4 linked regions of the Homo sapiens genome follow. The protein of the gene in region 3 purifies or fractionates together with the protein of the main gene of each other region. This does not show direct contact. Each region holds a gene or a part of one and is shown on either strand. Other genes may lie near its edges.

Evidence for each region.
Region 1: the proteins of PDE4DIP (region 3) and PRKACB purify together in Homo sapiens (affinity purification with mass spectrometry; 6 studies listed by BioGRID and IntAct, with this or other methods). This does not show direct contact.
Region 2: the proteins of PDE4DIP (region 3) and AKAP9 purify together in Homo sapiens (affinity purification with mass spectrometry; 3 studies listed by BioGRID and IntAct, with this or other methods). This does not show direct contact.
Region 4: the proteins of PDE4DIP (region 3) and SERPINB4 purify together in Homo sapiens (affinity purification with mass spectrometry; 2 studies listed by BioGRID and IntAct, with this or other methods). This does not show direct contact.

Annotation. Positions count from the first base shown.
Region 1 is NC_000001.11:84,199,771-84,203,270, reverse strand, and holds part of PRKACB (cAMP-dependent protein kinase catalytic subunit beta), read right to left. Parts: intron 589-3,500; coding exon 466-588; intron 1-465. UniProt on the Homo sapiens protein: Mediates cAMP-dependent signaling triggered by receptor binding to GPCRs.
Region 2 is NC_000007.14:92,003,362-92,006,861, reverse strand, and holds part of AKAP9 (A-kinase anchor protein 9), read right to left. Parts: intron 1-3,500. UniProt on the Homo sapiens protein: Scaffolding protein that assembles several protein kinases and phosphatases on the centrosome and Golgi apparatus. Required to maintain the integrity of the Golgi apparatus. Required for microtubule nucleation at the cis-side of the Golgi apparatus.
Region 3 is NC_000001.11:148,847,428-148,850,927, reverse strand, and holds part of PDE4DIP (myomegalin), read right to left. Parts: intron 1-3,500. UniProt on the Homo sapiens protein: Functions as an anchor sequestering components of the cAMP-dependent pathway to Golgi and/or centrosomes.
Region 4 is NC_000018.10:63,641,457-63,645,676, forward strand, and holds the start of SERPINB4 (serpin B4), read right to left. Parts: upstream 2,801-4,220; 5' UTR 2,753-2,800; intron 2,167-2,752; exon of another isoform or gene 2,148-2,166; 5' UTR 2,122-2,147; coding exon 1,957-2,121; intron 1,762-1,956; coding exon 1,705-1,761; intron 433-1,704; coding exon 304-432; intron 1-303. UniProt on the Homo sapiens protein: May act as a protease inhibitor to modulate the host immune response against tumor cells.

The DNA.
Region 1 (3,500 bases), about 65 Mb from region 3:
TTCTATAAATTTCCATCTGAAAAAGGCTTATTCATTTTATATTTACTTTTACTTCCAATGTTATAGTATTGGACATAATTAAAACAAGAAGTCTCTCCTGAAAATGGAAGGGCATATAAAACAGCCCCTAAAACTTTTCTCCATGAAGATAGACACATGAAATAATAAACTATTTTTATTTATTTGAAGGAATATCGAGAATTATGGCTATGATCCTGTTCTTTGTGATAAAAATACTAAATACAGAAATTGCTTTACTGTTTTGTTAATTTCTTTATAAAACTGCCCTTTTTTTCTTAAGAGACTGAAATGATTCAATTCTTATGATAGTAAGAGCAGCAACTGTAGATTTTTCTATATTTTTCCCAATGTAGAATAATAATTATGACACAATATAGTTTCAATTCATGAAGCTTAAAATTCATATACAGTAATAAGAGAGGAATAATAAAATGTTTTACTTACCTTTCCAGAAACAATCTTTTCATAAATCTGAATTGGTTGGTCTGCAAAGAATGGGGGATAGCCAGCTGCCATTTCATAGATTAGCACTCCTAATGCCCACCAATCCACTGCCTTATTGTAGCCCTGAGATAAACCAACACCAATGTCAATTGTTACTTAAGTTACTCAAAAGAGAATGAAGTCAAAGATAATTTCAAAATGATCTGGAAGCATATAAAAATTTTTTTAAAGCAATTGCTGAGCAGCTATTCAGGACAGAATTTAAAAATGAACCAAATGTATCAGGTCAGATTTAAATTAAACAAAGGAGAGGATTTCCAGATACTGAAATTGGATATTAGGAAAGAGTATTAAATCTTCTTCCTAAAATTATTAAGAATATTATAGACAATGAAATTTTCTTTATTTCACTGGTATAATTTAGTTCTTGCTCAATAACAGGAAGGCAGTTAGACCACATTACTTCTTAAGGCCCACTCTAGGTCCATAATCTTATGAAACAGATTTTCCACAGCATGCCTAGAAAGATCAAAAGTTTTCAAAGAAAATAATAGAAACTGGACTACATAGTAAATAATGAAGTTGACTTCAAAATACTCTATATTTTTGGAGTTAGGAGGGTGAATGTGCTAGGGATAATCCCATCTGCTTCATAGGATTTTGTGAAAGCAAAAAGTTTAATGTAAAATTCAATTCATGTAAATATTTAGGTATACTTTACTTCTGCTATCTACTGTCTTGCTTCCTATATCTAAAAGATATGCAGGAAAAAAATGAATTCACAGAGTTTTGTGAGGACTGTATCAAATGAAAGGGAGTAACGTGTGTAAAAAGTGCTTTGCAAACCAAATGTAAAAATCACAGGTTATGTTTGTTTTTTTCATATTAAGCTTACTAAAATTAAAATTTGTAAGTATTCATAAGAAAATAAATAAGAATAACATCTTCATATTAACATGCTAATATAGTTTATTAACTATGGTCAGTATCAACTGACACAAGAGATTTTTTAACAACCCCAAAAACCTGTCATGAAGAGAAATAAGCTGAATTCTACCCAGATCTATTGCTCTGCCCTCAGAGGTACCCTCTACCATCACGACTCACCACATTCCACCCTTTTGTCAAAATTTTAGCTTTACAAACTACTTAGTTTTCAAAATTCTAGCAAAAATATAATACTTTAGCGCTATAGAGATTTTCTTTTTCTCTTTTTTTTCCTGATACTGTGTATATCTTTTTAAGGGAAGGAGTGGTATAACAGGAATAGCACTTTGTTTTTTAATAGAAATAGGCATTAACTCTCTTTAACTTTTTGATTCATATGTTTAAATTGTGTGCTAATGTTTATAGTAAATATGTCAGACACAAGTTAATACCCAAGGTATAGAAATCAAAACACATCAATAAGAAAAATGTTAAATTACAATAGATAAATGGGCCAAGGAAATGAACTAATAATTTACAGACACATAAAGAAATACCAAATGGCTATTAACCATTTGAAAAATAAATAAAAAACATGAGAATTAAAACAATGAGATACAATTTATTGCCTATGAAATCAGTAAATATTTTAAAAATGAGTATACCCAGTGATAGTGTTATGAAATAGGCACTATAATACACTAATGGTAGAAGTGTAAAATGGCATAATAACTTTGGAAAGCAATTTGGCAATATGTATCAAAAGCCTTAAAAATGTTCCTATTCCTTGACCCAGTAATTCTACTTCTGGGAATATATGCTAAGGAAATAATGTAAAATAAGGAAAAAACTTTTATGTATAAGGATGTTTATCATAGTTATTTATAATAATAAAAAAATCAAAAATAAAACCTGAACACTCAACGATAGAAGAGTGGCTACATATTTTATGGTACATTTACAAACAAGCCATTAGAATGATGTTTGCATGCTTGTTATTATAAAAGTGAAAAAAGTCAGAGACAAGACTATATATATTTACTATGATTTCAACTATGACAACCCAGAAATAAGTCCATACACCTACGACCACCCGATCTTTGACAAAGCTGACAAAACCAAGCAATGGGGAAAAGTTTCCCTACTCAATAAATGGTGCTGGGATAACTGGCTAGCCACATGCAAAAGACTGAAGATAGATCCCTTCCTTATACCATATACAAAAATCAACTCAAAATGGATTAAAGACCTAAATGCAAAACCCCGGAGTATAAAAACCTTGAAAGACAACCTAGGCAATGCCACCCTGGACATAAGAATGGACAAAGGTTTCATGACAAAGACACCAAAAGCAATTCCAACAAAAGCAAACACTGTCAAGTGGGATCTAATTAAACTGAAGAGATTCTGCACAGCAAAAGAAACTATCAACGGTAAACAGACAACCTACAGAATGGGAGAAAATATTTGCAAACCATATGCATCTGCCAAAGGTCTAATATCCAGCATCTATGAGGAACTTAAACAAATTTACAAGAAACAAACAACCCCATGAAAAGGTGGGCAAAGGACATGAACTGACACTTTCTAAAACAAGACATACATGCGGCCAACAAAGATATGAAAAAATGCTCAATATCACCGATCATTAGAGAAATGCAAGCAAGTCAAAACCACAATGAGATACCATTCCACACCAGTCAGAATGGCTATTACTAAAAAGTAAAAAAATGGAAGGGCATAGTGGCTCACCCCTGTAATCCCAGCACTTTGAGAGGCCAAGGAGGGTGCACCACTTGAGGTCGGGAGTTCAAGACCAGCCTGACCAATATGGTGAAACCCTGTCTCTACTAAAAAATACAAAAATTAACCAGGTGTTGTAGTGCATGCCGGTAGTCCCAGCTACTTGGGAGCCTGAAGCACGAGAATCGCTTGAACTCAGGAGGCAGAGGTTGTAGTGAACCGAGATCACGCCACTGCACTGCAGCCTGGGCGACAGAGCAAGACTCCATCTCCAGAAAATAAATAAATAAATAAATAAATAAACAAATAGTCAAAAAATAACAGATGCTGGCAAGGTTGCAGAGAAAAGTGAACACTTAGACACT
Region 2 (3,500 bases), on a different chromosome or scaffold from region 3:
TTAAACACATACACTTCAATCTATGACCTCTCCCAGCATCAATAATTAATCAGTATCTAAAAAATTCCTGCCACTCTTCCTTCTTCCTTGCATCCCAACACTGAAAAGACTTCTATGATGTTTTTATTTTTCTCCTTCTGCCCAAACTACCTAAGTGTATTAGAGATATCTGTGTGGCATCCACATTATTTCAAGCATATTTAGGCTGCTCTTAGGTGTTACTATTGTGTAAGTCACTGCTCGATTTCTTCTGTGAACTTCCCTTCCCATCAATAAAGGTTTGTCTTGGTAATGATGAACGGGCAGGAAGTTTACAGGCTTTACTTTATGTAGTCAATGTCAAATAGAGGGAATCTGAATGCCATCAAAAGTATCTTTTTAGTATCTCTTTAGTACAGAAAATAGAATTCTGGCTGGTGACAAAGACTCATGCCTGTAATCCCAGCATTTCAGGAGGCCAAGGCAAGAAGATCATTTAAGCCCAGAAGTTTGAGACCAGCCTGGGCAACATGGCAAATCCCTGTCTCTACAAAAAATACAAAAACCTAGCTGGGTGTGTGGTGCATGCCTGTAATACTAGCTACTCAGGAGGCTGAGGTGAGAGGATCACCTGAGTCCAGGAGGTCAAGGCTGCAGGATGCTGTGATTGCGCCATGAGACTCTAGCCTGGACGGCAGTGAGAGCCTGTCTCAAAAAAAAAAGAAAAAGAAAAAGAAAATTAGAATTCCTAATAAGAAAATTTGACCATCTGAGGGTCAAATTCAGGTCTTCTCCCAAAAATGCTTCCTAAAAAATTTTAAAAGATGTGTGACATTTTCACAAGTAACTGCCATACATTTTGGTTTTGAAAACAATTCCAGACATTTAACAGAACATTAACAGTTAAGCAATTTGGCCAGGCATGGTGGCTCACGCCTGTAATCCCAGCACTTTGGGAGGCCGAGGCTGTTGGATCACCTAAGGTCAGGAGTTTGAGACCAAACTGGCCAACATGGTGAAACCTTGTCTCTACTAAAAATACAAAAATTACCCAGGCGTGGTGGTGGTGCATGCCTGTAATCCCAGCTACTCAGGAGGCTGAGGCAGGAGAATTGATTGAACCCGGGAGGCGGAGGTTGTAGTGAGCTGAGATCACGCCACTGCACTCCAGCCCGGGTGACAGAGTGAGACTCGGTCTCAAAAACAAACAAACAAAAAAATCGTTAAGCAATTCGAATTTCTTGACTCTATTTAGGCAAGTAAATATATAAAATATCTCTACATTTGATATAAATCATAAATATAAAATATCTCGACATTTGATATAAGATCATAAATATGATATATTTAGGAATAAAAAGAGAAAACTTTCCAATGGCTTCCAAAGTCTGCAAGATTCTCCAAGGTCTGGTCTCTTCCTCCTTCAAACTCTTCTTCCACTCTCCCGCTCTCTCAAACTCAACTACACAAGCCTTCATTCTGTTCTTTAAACTTACCCGTGTCTTTACAATTGCTCTAATTTCAATGTCATTCAGATTTCAGCTCAAATGTCAATTCCTCCTAGAGATGTTTCCTGACCACCATATTTAATGTTGTTACTACCCTCTCCAACATTCCCAATATCCTGATGAACATCGATGCAAAAATCCTCAATAAAATACTGGCAAACCAAATGCAGCAGCACATCAGAAAGCTCATCCACCATGATCAAGTGGGCTTCATCCCTGGGATGCAAGGCTGGTTCAACATACGCAAATCAGTAAGTGTAATCCAGCATATAAACAGAACCAAAGACAAAAACCACATGATTATCTCAATAGATGCAGAAAAGGCCTTGGACAAAATTCAACAGCACTTCATGCTAAAAACTCTCAATAAATTAGGTACTGATGGGGCATATCTCAAAATAGTAAGAGCTATTTATGACAAACCCACAGCCAATATCATACTGAATGGACAAAAACCGGAAGCATTCCCTTTGAAAACTGGCACAAGACAGGGATGCCCTCTCTCACCACTCCTATTCAACATAGTGTTGGAAGTTCTGGCCAGGGAAATCAGGCAGGAGAAAGAAATAAAGGGTATTCAATTAGGAAAAGAGGAAGTCAAATTGTCCCTGTTTGCAGATGACGTGATTGTATATCTAGAAAACCCCATCGTCTCAGCCCAAAATCTCCTTAAGCTGATAAGCAACTTCAGCAAAGTCTCAGGATACAAAATCAATGTGCAAAAATCACAAGCATTCTTATACACCAACAACAGACGAACAGAGAGCCAAATCATGAGTGAACTCCCATTCACAATTGCTTCAATGAGAATAAAATACCTAGGAATCCAACTTACAAGGGATATGAAGGGCCTCTTCAAGGAGAACTACAAACGACTGCTCAACGAAATAAAAGAGGATACAAACAAATGGAAGAACATTCCATGCTCATGGATAGGAAGAATCAATATTGTGAAAATGGCCATACTGCCCAAGGTAATTTATAGATTCAATGCCATTCCCATCAGGAATGACTTTCTTCACAGAAATGACTTTCTTCACAGAATTGGAAAAAACTACTTTAAAGTTCATAAGGAACCAAAAAAGAGCCCACATTGCCAAGTCAATCCTAAGCCAAGAGAACAAAGCTGGAGGCATCACGCTACCTGACTTCAAACTATACTACAAGGCTACAGTAACCAAAACAGCATGGTACTGGTACCAAAACAGAGATATAGACCAATGGAACAGAACAGAGCCCTCAGAAATAATTCCATCATTCCCTATCACATTATCCTGTTTTATTTCTTCAGAGAATTTATCACTATTTCTCACTATCCTACTTGTTTCATTTATCATCTGCCTCCCTCACTAAAATATATGCTCTTTGAGACCAGAAACCTCTCTCTTGTTGGCCACTATATTCGTACTTGCCAAGAGAGTCAATAAATATGTTAGAAAAATGAAGAAACACATAAAACTTTAGTTAGCACCATTACATTGTAGATAGCAGAATTTTCCTGTTATTTTAATATCAGTATCTGGCAAATATAAATTATCAGGAGTGATCTATTATTATATACATATAATTCTTTAACTATATTTAGAGTTAATACTGTTTTTTCCCCTTCAGGTATAATAAAGACTCTGAAAAAACTCTAGGACTTAAATCAAAGGTTTTTTTTTCTCCCAGGAAAATATAATTTCATAACCACCTAACAACTATAGAGACTATTAAAAAGCTTAGGAGTTCATTTTCAGTTGTAGAGACTTGAAAACATCACTATGAAATAAAAACGCTGAAACCAATCTTTGAGATTATAACAAAAATTACAAAATGAAATTAATAACTTTTCTAATGCTGAGATTCTCCATAAAGTTATACAAACTCTTGTCTTTCCAAAGAAAATCTGAATCCATTAGTGTTTTATTTCCTGAGCAGAATATACAAGATAGATTAACTGAAAGAAAGGCAACAATGGTTTAAAAAAAAAAGTACTTAAATGATAAATAAATGATAGGCTCAAGTTAAAAT
Region 3 (3,500 bases):
ACATTTATATAGAGAAAAACAAATTCAAATAAGCTATCAATGGAGATCTGTTAAGTACAATATAGCTGTGGTAAATGGACACCTTGTCTTGCTTGAAGGCTGTACTCCAGAAAAGAAACAAAGTCAAAATTCTTAAATTTTGAAACCAGATCATTAATTTTCTTGAATGTTACTTCCATTTTCCAAATTTTCACAGATACAGCAAGCAAATGCAATTAATGCTTGCATTTTATTAAATCAAATTGCAGGGGAATAGAAAACAAAACAAAACAGACTAATTTGCTTTCCTTTTTTAACCTTCAGTCTTATAGTTTGCCCTTAAACATTTCTAGTTCACTCTTTTCTTGAGTTATGTGTTCGGGGAAGTTGTATAAGGTTCATATATGATTCACCTGATGTTTACTCAGCTTTCTCATATGCTAGAAACCAGAACATTTCCACTGAAATGGGGAAGATAATTAGTAATGACTTTTTCAGCATTGAACGATGTGGTAGGCTAAAATAATGGCCTTATAAGAATGTCCACATTCCTAATCCCCAGATCCTGTGTATATGCCACTTTCCATAGCAAGAGAGGGCTTTGCAGATGTGACTAAAGATTTTGAGATGAGGAGATTATCCTGGATTATCTGGTTGGGTCCAATGTAATCATAAGGGTCCTAGTAAGAGGGACACTGGAGGGTCAGAATGATCAAAGGAGATGTGATGATAGAAGCAGAGGCCAGTGATGGCATTGCTGGAAGGGGCTATGAACCCAGAATGTGGGCAGTCTCTCGAAGCCATGAAGGGCAAGGAACAAATTCTCCTTTAGAGCCTCTAGAAGGAGCACAGTCCTGCTGATACCTTGGTTTTAACCTAGAAGACCAAATTTCAGACTTCTGACCTCCAGAACTTTAAGGCAATACATTTGTATTGTTTTAAGCCACTAAGTTTGTGGTGATTTGGCTGGGCGCAGTGGCTCACACCTGTAATCCCAGCACTTTGGGAGGCCAAGGCGGGTGGATCACTTGAGGTCAGGAGTTTGAGACCAGCCAGGCCAACATGGTGAAACCCCGTCTCTACTAAAAATACAAAAATTAGCTGAGTGTGGTGCCATGTGCCTGTAATCCCAGCTACTTGGGAGGCTGAGGCAGGAGAATCCCTTGAACCTGAGAGGCGGAGGTTGCAGTGAGCCAAGATTGCACCACTGCACGCTAGCCTGGGCAACAGAGTGAGACTCCATCTCAAAAAAAAAAAAAAAAGTTTGTGGTGATTTGTTACACCAGCAACAGGAAATTAATACAAACAGTAATCCTGAAGTACTGATAATCTTTAAAGCAGAAGGTGTAGGGAGTTGCTAGTCCAGACAGGTGGATGCTAAAAATTTAGAGCAGTAGAAGCTGTTTGCCTGGTTGACACTGGACCTGCCGGGTGAGAAAACCTCCCCTCATCATCAAGTTCTTCATCAGCTCCATGAGCTTATTCTTTTGACAACTCTCGCCCTGTTCACGGAAATAAATCTGAAAGCTGGTGACCAAATCAGCTTTTTGTAATGCCAGTATATTCATAGAAAATTTGCTATTCCAGAGCCAACCATGCTCTGTCCAAATGATTTAACCAGTGAGTTTGGCAACAGTCAGGTAACGGCCCCAGCGGGTAGGGGGAACCTTTCCATTGAGCTGTAGAGGGGCAGATGATGTGTAGCTGGGAGTAGAGCATATCTAACTTTGAGAACTAAAATACCAAGCACCTTGTCCTTTGTGGGTAAATTGAGCAAGTAGCTAGCTTCAGAAACAAGTCATAAACTGAGTCACCTACAAAACTCTACTAAAATAAAGTAAAAGCATAGATTTTGGAATGAAACAGTTCAAGGCTATATTTCTTTCTCGGCTGTGTGTGTCACTCTGGGAAAATTATTTAATCTTTCTGAAGCTCAATTTCCTTTTCTTAAAAATGAGTATAACATTTACTTCATAGGGTTGTAAGGATTAGGTGAATTAAGTATTCAAAGAGATTAGCACACAATTAAAGCTTAATAAATGTTATCAATTATGGTTAATTTTTATTCTTTCAATCCCCTATCCACTGTGTACCCAGAGCAGCCACTGCGTATCTCTGCCTTAGTGTCTCTCTATTAAAATTATAGATGATGACAATGTAAAGCCATTAAAGGCAGAGACCCAGTCTCATTCATTGCATTCATTGTTTTATTCTTAGCATCTAGCACAGCGTCTGACCTGTTTGGGGCTCTCAAAATTTATTTATTTATTTATTTATTTTTGAGACAGAGTCTCACTGTGTCACCCAGGCTGGAGTGCAGTGGTATAATCTCAGCTCACTGCAACATCCGCCTCCCGGGTTCAAGGGATTCTCCTGCCTCAGGCTCCTAAGTAGCTGGGACTACAGGTGCAGGCACCACACCCGGCTAATTTTTGTATTTTTAGTAGAGATGGGGTTTCAGCACGTTGGCCAGACTGGTCTCGAACTTCTGACCTCAAGTCATCCACCTGCCTTGGCCTCTCAAACTGTTGAGACTACAGGCGTGAGCCATTTCATCCGGCCCTCAAATTTTTAATAAGTGTTTATGAACTAATCTGATCTGTGAGTTAGGAAGGATCTGAGATGTCAGCCATGATCTGTGATTATAGGATTTTTCCAACTGTGACCCATTAGGTGGAGAAATAAATTCAGTGAATCAGAGCCAACATTTTATTTTTAAAGAAAAAGAATAGAATAGCAAATATCAGAGTGCAAAACACATAGTAAAGTTAAGTATTGTTACAAGAAACTTTGTTACATATGTAAGAGTACTTGGTGGCAATGTAAATATATTACTTATTGTGAGTAGTGGTTAAAAAATATGTGAACATTCTGAATGGTCCACCTTGCCAGCATTTGCTACTTTCTATCTTTTTAATTTCAGCCATTCTGATATGTATATAGCAGCATGGTGTTGTGGTTCTAATTTGCATTTCCCTGATAACTAGTGATGTGGAGCACCTTTTCACTATGTTCTTCCCTTTGGATACCCTCTTTTTTTTTTTTTTTTTTTTTTTTTTTTTTTTTTTTTTTTTTTTTTTTGAGATGTAGGCTCGCTCTGTCACCCAGGCTGGAGTGCAGTGGTGCGATCTCGGCTCACTGCAAGCTCCGCCTCCCAGGTTCAGGCCATTCTCCTGCCTCAGCCTCCCGAGTAGCTGGGACTACAGGTGCCTGCAACCACGCCGGGCTAATTTTTTGTATTTTTAGTAGAGACGGGGTTTCACCGTGTTAGCCAGGACTATCTCGATCTCCTGACCCCGTGATCCGCCCGCCTCGGCCTCCCAAAGTGCTGGGATTACAGGCGTGAGCCACCGCGCCTGGCCTGGATACCCGCTTTAGAAATCTCTTTTGTAATCTGTTTAAAAAAAAACAATCTGGCAGTATTTACTAAATCTGAACATGCATTTCCTATTACGCAGAAATCATACTTCTACTTATTTACTCAACAGAAATGTGTACATATGTTCATCAAAAGACCTGTA
Region 4 (4,220 bases), on a different chromosome or scaffold from region 3:
GTATGTGACTGAGTCAGTGCCAGTTTATCGATGGTATCTTATTACTTATTACTCTTACTCACTCTATTACACAACCTCCTCTTTTATCACAAGATTATCCCTAAATCCACACTTCAGTGATGTATCGTTGGGGTCTGGGACACTCCAGTGGGGGAGAGTTGTGGAAATGGAGCTAATGCACTCTGAGTAAATGCTCTCCACCTGAGTCGGCCAGGCTCATCTGCCTTGCTTTCTTCCATTTGGCCACTCAGAGACACAGACATCAGGATGCAAATGAAATGTGGGTAGGCCAGGTGAAATTACCTGTAAAAATTGATACGTCTTTTCTCCGAAGAGCTTGTTGGCGATCTTCAGCTCATATGCATCAGTGGATTTGTTGAATTCAGTCAGAAGCTTTTGAAACTGGTGATGAACATTTCCTGACCTATCAACCTTCAAACATCAAAAAGGGAGATCATTCAATTGCTGTATCAATGTAAATACTAAACCCATGCTAAGTCTGTTAGATCAGTCCCTAAATGCTGGTAGTCTCATTGAGGACCTTTGATGTTATTCCCTGATAATTGGTGTATTTCACCTCAAATACCCTTCAAAATCCACCTTATATTTGACTTCTTCCAGAAAATTCTTCTTGCTCTAACGTACTGCAATCTTTTCTCTTCTGAACTAAAGATGCAGCGCTGTCTACCAGTAGATTTTCTCCTTGTTGGTTTAAAGGGTTAGGTTTAGCTTCCCAGTTAAACTCTCAGCTCCTTATGGGCAAGGACCATATTTCACTTCTAACAGTCATCAAGGATACGAGTATGTTGAAGGTTGGATATTTTAAATAGATTATGCCAGGAAGCCCTGTTATACCTGTTGGTGCTATTATCTTGTAGGACACATTGACTGATCTGTGGCTCTTTCCTCATGATGGTCATTCTCTGCACGTAAGAAGAGTGTATGCCAGGTCCATGGCTAAGGACTTTACATGGGTAACTCTAAGTCTTTAGTTCAATTCAGATGAACACAAGAAAGCTCAGAGAATGGGGAAAAAAACCCTGTTTATAGAGACATAAATTAGAAGTGCCAAGTTTTGAACCTAAGCCTGTTTAAATCTAGAACTTTCTACCTTCCAGCAAAGCATTTTGCACTATTAAGGCTCTAAACCAATATATTCCATAGCAATCATTTTCCAAAATATACTTGGACTTGTGCTTATTCCTCTGAATCTCATTAATGACTCAATGAAAATTAAATTATTTTCACATTATTATGATTAGTATAATTATAGCTACTTTATAATAATAATAACATTTATTATGACTTTTATGGGCAAGGCACTGTTGTAAACATTTGCATGTATTTGCATGTATTGAGTCAGATTTTTTCTTACCCTTAGTTTTCTGGGATGAGGTCACTGGGACTCCGAGCAGTTGTGTCCTGCTCTTATTCATCATTTGTGAAGAGCAAAGCTGGAGTCTGAACCCAGCCTATCCTGATCCAGACCTATGCTCTGAGGTACAGTGCTGACTGTCTTTTAGTAACGCAGAAATGAGGAATAATAATTATGTGCCATGAAATGCCAACCCACTCTGTATGTCTCAATCTTTGTGTCCAAGATTTTCCCTAAAACTGGCCTTTTCTTAGTTTTTGTGAAGTTCCAGGTTTAAACTATGACCTGTTCAGGGATCTAAAGCTGAACCATAGTGCTCTGTGACTCACATGATATGTTGCAGCTTTTTCTGTGGTGTTCTCTGTGACTTGATCAAAGTGAAGAACCTGGAAGAGACATGAAGCGGGACAAGAAAACTTTACTCAAAAGATCTGTTTAAGTCAGTGGTCTCACAGTTATGGGAATTCCTGCACAGCCCCCTGTGCTACCCATCAGACCACCACATCTATTACCATCTGCGTGCTAGCCGACGGAACCAGAGAAAAACTGCAACAGGACAACGTAATGATGCTGATAGCTACCTTGCTAATTTGTTGTGCAGTGTTGTCTTTGGCTCCTAAGAGGACCATCCCTAATGCTGATGTGATGCTGATAGGGGAATAGAAGATGTTGTTCTCTTTTGATTTTCTGAACTGTTGGAACAGATCGAACATGAACTTGGTGTTGGCTTCACTGAGTGAATTCATGGTGAACTCGATGTGATCTGGAACTCCTGGAAAAGCATCAGATTCCTGTCAGAATGACTTTAATAAATGGAATGGTATTTTGTAGTACAATTTTCTTAAAGAAATGATATATCTGGGTTGTGAGATTTTGACATTTAAAGTTTTTCTCTTATTTTTAACGCTTCAATCTTTCTACAATGTGCATATATTAAATATATTAATGTCCTAATTAGAAGGCTTACAAAACTACGTTTTTAAAGACTATTGTAAATAAGTAATCGACCCTCTTTATCTTTCTTTCATTGCTGGTTACACTAGAGCTAGGTAGGATGGCTTTACAATGAATGCTAACAGGAGACCTCTGTGGATCACATCCAACCAGCTGTTAAGATGCGTCCCTGACATCTCCTTCAAGACTCTCTGGCTGCAAGGCACTCTCCCTCTGTGTTCCTAAAAGTGCCTTGGTTTACTTGGAACTAAGCAATTTAGATAAAGGACAAATCAGATGAAATAGGTATTTTAATTTTGCTCTGGCAGAATAAGTAAAATATAATCAGACAGAATGCAGGAGATGCATGATATAGAACACAGTATCATTATTATTCTCAAAAATAATTCATGTTATTAAGCTGGAGAGGCTTGAAGCTCTTACCTGTGTTCCTAGAGGAAGCAGAGGTGGGCAGAGAGGCTGTGTGTGTCTGTGGAATGAAGGGTGAGATCCTAAATTTATGCCTCTCCTCTTGCTGCCTTTCCCTCTGTGGTTAGTATTTGAAGTTACTCAACTTCAGATTTCACAAGCGGGCTAACACTCACCTTTATGAATATGAAAATTTATGACAAAGGACAGGATTACAGTTCTACCATTGTACCTCCTTTTTAATCTATAGGGAAAAAATAAGAATGCAAGTCAGCAGTCACCGGCTCATGTGAAATACATGTAGGTGCCTTTCTAATGCCAATGAGAATAAGTTTAGAATTCCAATTTCCTCTCATTTGTTTCAACTCCATCCCTTTGTATTCTACTCCAGCTGTAAAACAAAAACAAAAACAAACAAACAAAAACCCCACCATTCTTTTCTTGGATTTTGCATTGTCTTTTAGGCATACTTCGAATACCAAAGAACTAAAAAGCTTACATTTCCTGTTTTTCAGTTCTGAAAGTTTTTGTCATCCTATGAATTTCCTTAGTAATTTTTCTGTATAACAAGGAATGTAGTGCTAATTCTAAGTCCAAAGAGATAGTGAAGAAGTGTACTTCAGTATCTTATAGCATACTATGGAGAATAGGATTCTATTGCCTTCTCCTGAGTGCTCAGCTTTGGCAGTGATCCTACCAGTCACTTCCTGTGCCCCTTACAACCATCCCAGATGGTTTTCTGTTGCATAGGCTCAGTGAGAAAGTTATCTGCCTTGCTGAGTGATATGGTTTGGCTGTGTTCCCACCCAAATCTCAACTTGAATTGTATCTACCAGAATTTCCACATGTTATTGGAGGGACCCAGGTAGAGGTAATTGAATCATGGGGGCCGGTCTTTCTTGTGCTATTCTCATGATAGTTAATAAGCCTCAGGAGATCCGATGGGTTTATCAGGGGTTTCTTCTTTTGCTTCTTCCTCATCTTCTCTTGCAGCCACCATGTAAGAATAACTTTTGCCTCCTACTGTGATTCTGAGGCCTCCCCAATCACGTGGAACTCTAAGCCCAATTAAACCTCTTTTTCTTGCCAGTCTCAGGTATGTTTTTATCAGCAGCATGAAAACAGACTAACACATTGAGTTAACAGGCTGACACTGAGAAGAGCAATTGAAACAGACGGGCCATTTTAAATGGCAGCTTTCTAATTTTACATTTAAAAATGAAGCCGAAAAATAAATTGCTTGACCTGTCAGGATCACAACATTTCTCAATGGTCCTTCTGTTTAGCACCTGGCTTCAGACTCATTCCAGTGTTTCCCCTGGAATATCTTGTAATCTGAAGAATGTCTGTGGCCAGGGAGAGGGGTTGTTGTCCAAGGCCATTTAATCCAATATCTCCCTGACAACCAGAGTGGGGGGCTGTTTGTTTTGTGGACCCCCTTTTTATTAACATATAATTTATATACCATAAATTCAACTGTACA